2 separate regions of the Homo sapiens genome follow, and region 1 is linked to region 2. Evidence: fine-mapped expression QTL. Tissue or cell type: whole blood. Region 2 holds a variant in brackets; the other region holds the start of a gene. All regions are shown on one strand. Distances are between the middles of the regions.

Region 1 (2,689 bases), 250 kb after region 2:
TAGTTAAAAAAGTTAATTTGGGCCAGGCGCAGTGGCTCACGCCTGTAATCCCAGCACTCTGGGAGGCTGAGGCGGGCGGATCACGAGGTCAGGAGATCGAGACCATGCTGGCTAACATGGTGAAACCCCATCTCTACTAAAAAATACAAAAAATTAGCCGGGCGTGGTGGCGGGCGCCTGTAGTCTCAGCTACTCGGGAGGCTGAGGCAGGAGAATGGCGTGAACCCAGGAGGTGAAGCTTGCAGCGAGCCGAGATTGTGCCACTGCACTCCAGCCTGGGCGACAGAGCGAGACTCCGTCTCAAAAAAAAAAAAAAGTTAATTTGTGAGGAAACTGAAAATTCAATTATTTTTCAGAAAGCAATGTTTTTGTTAAACAGAAATTAACCAAATAAAACGAAATCCTTACAGTAAACTTCAATCCCAGCAAGACTTAAAGTATTTCTGCTTTGCAGTCATTCCTGCCATGTAGAACACTTCCCCAGGCCCAACACCCCACAACACCTGGGGCCTTACCTCTACCTGGGGACTGACCACATTATAATTAAGAAGGCTTAACTCACGATGAAGGGGACTGCTCTAGTGGACGAGTTGGGCCGATCCCTTTATTGACTCCGTTAGGATGGGAGATGGGGGTTGGAGGGATAGGCGTTAGGGGTATAAAGGGGCCAGCTTGGGAATCAAACCCTACTTCCAGAGTCCCTTCGGGCTTTGAACATGCCAGAAACATTTTCCCTGCTTAGAGCACTGTGCTGAATTTTGTTAAACTTGTGATTAAATCGTCATGAAAGCTTACACGTGCATTTAAAAATTATTCAGATATGCACCATTAGGGATAATCAGGCTAATAGTACCAGACCTTGAGTTCATTGAGGACTGGATTAGTCCCTTAAGTATCGTGGTAAATGTTAATTGAACAAATTCCAAGTTTATAGCCACCCACTTTCTGTCATATCAGCATTTCAGTTATTGAAAAATTAAGTTCTAGCTTTTCTTTTAAGGAACTTTAAAAATCACAAGTTCGAATTTTAAAAAGGAATCCTAAGACATTTTTCCTCGTCTGCTGACATATTTCCACAGCAAATGCTAAACTAATAGCTAGGCTATTATTAGGTGATTTTGCCATCTTAAAATCTTTTGGTTTCTGAGTTCGAGGAAAGGCGTTGGGGGCAAATATGTAAGAGAGGCTGTGAGGGATGTAATACTGCAAACGCTAACGTTTTGTTTTCATAGTTGTTTGGCCACCTCGCGAGATCCAGTGAACCGGAGGAGTTCCTGTTTTTCCCTTTTAATTTTTGTCAATCTAATCTTCAAAGTCAACAAAGCTAAAATCGAGCACCCAGGTGGTTCACCTCCCCAGAGGGGCTCAGATCATGAAATAAACGCCACCAAAAAAACGCTGGAAGAGGCAGCCCACAGTGAAAAGTCCCAGGAAGTGATTTCCGGTCGAAGGTGGGAGGGGCGGCTGATTTCCGGTCGAAGGGCAGGCGACGGCTCTTGCGCAAGCGCGCTTCGCACTTTGCGGGCTTTTTTTTTTTTTTTTTTTTTTTTTTTTTTTTCCTTTCCCCTCCCCCTCCCTCTCCAAGCCGGAGGGGTCCTGAGGTGACAGCGCCTGCAACTGAAATTTCAGCAGCGGGAGAAGATGGACAAGAGAAAGCTCGGGCGACGGCCATCTTCATCCGGTGAGAAAGGGTCAGAGAAGGGCTGAACATATTGTCTCCTACCCGGGGGAAACGGGAGGCGCAGGCGGCAGCTGGGGTTGCGGCCCGAAGCCGCGGGGGCGAGGGCGGGGGCGGGGAGAGGAAGGGGCGCGCACAATGGAAGGCTCCCGGGTCGCCCCCGCCCCTGGAGTCGAAGACCCGGTCCGAGCTGTCATCGAAGCCTCGGGCGCTCTTCACCTCAAAACCCCTTTTATTTTTTCCCTCCTCCCGCGAACACCCTCCTTGCGTCTCATCGGCCCATGGATCTTCCCGGTTGGCTTGTCACTCTCTGCCACGCCTTCCTCGTAATTCCACCAATGTTCCAATTTCATTTCGGCTTCTCAGCGCCTGACCCCACTTTCCTCTCTTCCTTTGATTCTCGACTTTGCGTCCCTTCCCCTCTCCCTCCTCTTTCCCTCAGCAGGTAGCTGCTGCTGGGGAGGAAAGGTGGGGCTTGCGACCGGAGACTCCTTTTCTTTGATACAATGCCTCTCCGGGTCTCGTTCTGCTGAACAGGCCCGCCTAATAGCCTTTTTCTTTTCCAGCCTACCCTGCGTCTTCCAAAAGTGATTGGAAAGTCAAACAAAGGATTTGAAGCCGTGCTTTCGTTGTGTTTTTATTTTCAGCATATTTTTTGTTTTGGACGTTACTTTGTTTTAAATGACTATCTTCAGTTTTGTGTACAACGTCTTGGAAACAAGAAAGTGGAGTTATAAAAACGTGAGGTAGAGCTCCTCCCAGTTGAGAAGTTTTTATCAAACATTTCATCCATTAGGGGGTCCTCAAGTCCTTGTGTTAAGTCCTATGGATGGTAGGAGGAGAGGACGAGGACTCATATGCTTACAGTCCAGTACACAAACGAACGCCCAATGAATCAATTATTTCATTTCATTTTTCTGTTTCTGATGGTACCGTTGGTTTCTGCAGAGACAGTTAACAATTACAGATTTATTGGCCGGGCGCGGTGGCTCACGCCTGTAATGCCAACAC
Region 2 (2,689 bases):
GTTTGTTTTTGAGACAGGGTCTCGCTCTGTCACCCAGGCTGGAGTGCAGCAGCACAATCATGGCTCACTGCAGCATCAACCTCCTGGGCTCAAGTGATCCTCCCACCCCACCTCTGCCTCCTAACCAGCTAGGACTCCAGGTGCCCACCACCATGTCTGCCTAATTTTTTTTTTTTTTTTTGAGATGGAGTTTCGCTCTTGTTACCCAGGCTGGAGTGCAATGGCACAATCTCGGCTTACCGCAACCTCCACCTCCCAGGTTCAAGCAATTCTCCTGCCTCAGCTTCCCAAGTAGCTGGGATTACAGGCACCCACCATCACACCTGGCTAATTTTCTATTTTTAGTAGAGACAGGGTTTCCCCATGTTGGTCAGGCTGGTCTCAAACTCCTGACGTCAGGTGATCCGCCCACCTTGGCCTCCCAAAGTGCTAGGATTACAGGCGTGAGCCACCGTGTCCGTCCATCTGGCTAATTTTTAAAATTTTTTCTGTAGAGATGAGGTCTCGCTTTGTTGCCCAGGATGGTCTTGAACTCCTGGGCTCAAGCAATCCTTCTGCCTTGGCCTCCCAAGTGCTGGGATTACGGGCACAAGCCACCACACCCCACCTGTCTATTTTACAATTTTCCTTTGAGCTCTTTTTTCCAGCAGTCATGAAGCTGGCAAATGGCAGAACTGGAGCTAGAAACTGCTGACTCCCTTTATCTTTTCCATAGCATCCCAAGCCTAAAACCAGACTGGCACAAATGGTACATGTCCCTGGTAACAAAAGGCCCTCACCAGGAGTGGGAATGGGCCAAAGCAATTCTCTTGCTTCTACAAGAAAAACAGCAAGAAGCACAACAGTACATGTCTAGCTGACTAAGGGGTCAATAATGCGCAACAGCACATGCCTAGCTGAATAAGGGGTCAATAATGTATTCAAGATATAATGAGATCTATTCAATAAGACAGGTTAGAGCCCTTGAAATAAGTAGATCTTGTAAAATAAGTCTCATTTTAGATACCCAGGTAGAGATTACAGTTTTTAAGTATTAGCTAACAATATAGTATA[T/C]GCAACTTTCTAAAATACCTAAAAACATACCAAATTCTTGATAATATGACCCCTAATTTCTAAAGTATAACAAAAATTCCAAAATTTTACTGTAAAAACTGCAAACAAGAAAGCAGTATGTACAGTTTTTAGTTTCCCTTTGACCCCCCGCCCAAGGTAATTACTGACAGCAACTTGATGCATATCCTTCCAGACTTTTTTCTAGGTCGTATTTTCAAATATACAGGGAAGCTGAGCACACTGGTGTGTGCCTGTAGTCCCAGCTGCTTGGGAGGTTGCAGCAGAAGGATCACTTGAGGAGTTCAAGGCTGTAATGCGCTAGTGCTGTTTTTTTTTTTTACTAAACAGTATTATTTTGGAGATCTTTCCATGTTGGTGAATACCATTACCTTATTTTTTTTAACTATTCCATGGTATTCCACAGTATTATTATTCTATAATTTAACCATTCCTCTATTGTTGGTAACTACAAAACTTTACAAATCAATAATTATTTTTTCATTTTATAGGTCAAATCCTATTATAACAAATTTGGCCAGGTGATGTGGCTCACTTTGGGAGGCTGAGGAGGGAAGACTGCTTGAGCCCAGAAGTTTGAGACCGGCCTGGGCAATATGGCAAGACCCCATTTCTATAAAAAAGAAGAAATGAAAATTTTATTAAAATATTTTCAAGAAATTATCATCAAGAAGTATTTGATGTGATACAATGCTAGTAAAACCAACTGCCTAAACTGTCCCTAAAGTGTGCTATTATAGGATTCAAATACTCTCCTATACAGTTATGAATACTTTTTAGGACATGCATATTGTAGTCATATACCATCTTAATCACAATTCATTCAAATATTCCCAAAAGACAGATCGATAGCTACATGAAATTTCAAATTGGGGTTGTTGTATCTATTGGAAAGCTCTAACAGCCTTCAGTTAAGCCACTTTCCTCCTGCTTTATACTATTTTGTTTTTCTTGTCAAAATTGTCAGAATATTTTTCTTCAGATTAAATAAAATGCAAGAAAATTCACTGTCCTAGTTCACAGTTAGTGGCGAAGAACACAAGCCATACCCTTAACCTTGAACAAGAGTGCTTAATACACCTGAGTACTCTATGATTATCTCAATGAATATAGAATCTGTATTTGATCATATATGAGGTAAATCAGCAGGAGGGAGTTTACCTGGTTCCAAAGGAATCTGAAAGCTTCTTCTTGTACAAATTTTTTAATACGTTCTTCATCTCTTTCTTTTCGTAATCTACAATAATTCAAAACACATTATTGACATAAGGAAGGGTGCTTTGACTCAGACTTCCTGTTACAACTCATAAACACATGCATTGTAAAGAGATTAATAATCTAATAGTTGTCTTTCCCACTTTTAGAATATCTAAATTAAAACCTTATTTTATTTTTATTTTTTTAACCTCAGAATCAAAATGGAACAGTTTTATAAGTGACATCATAAACCTTAATTTTGAACTGTGACTCAAAGTAGAAGCCAAAGGAGATATGACTGAAATACAGGTATTAGTTCTACAAAGTATTTCCAGTAATAAGAAATAAAATAAAATGTTAAATGGCTCTTTGTCTGGCTTCAATTTCTCAGCCAAACAAACCAAAGGAACAGAAAGTGCAA

What was found. PIP is the estimated chance that this variant, and not a neighbour inherited with it, causes the effect.
Region 1: SENP7 starts here. The variant in region 2 is fine-mapped to the expression of SENP7 in whole blood (INTERVAL, PIP 0.98).

The regions. Positions count from the first base shown.
Region 1 is chr3:101,512,083-101,514,771 of GRCh38, reverse strand. It overlaps SENP7 (SUMO specific peptidase 7), which reads left to right and starts at 1,560. Exons shown (of 24, transcript NM_020654.5): 1 at 1,560-1,681. The coding sequence starts at 1,642.
Region 2 is chr3:101,762,104-101,764,792 of GRCh38, reverse strand. CEP97 (centrosomal protein 97) reads right to left here. Exons shown (of 11, transcript NM_024548.4): 10 at 2,233-2,308. Among named protein-coding and RNA genes, the nearest start is that of NXPE3, 16 kb to the left of the region's middle. The variant T/C (reference allele first, on the strand shown) is at 1,054.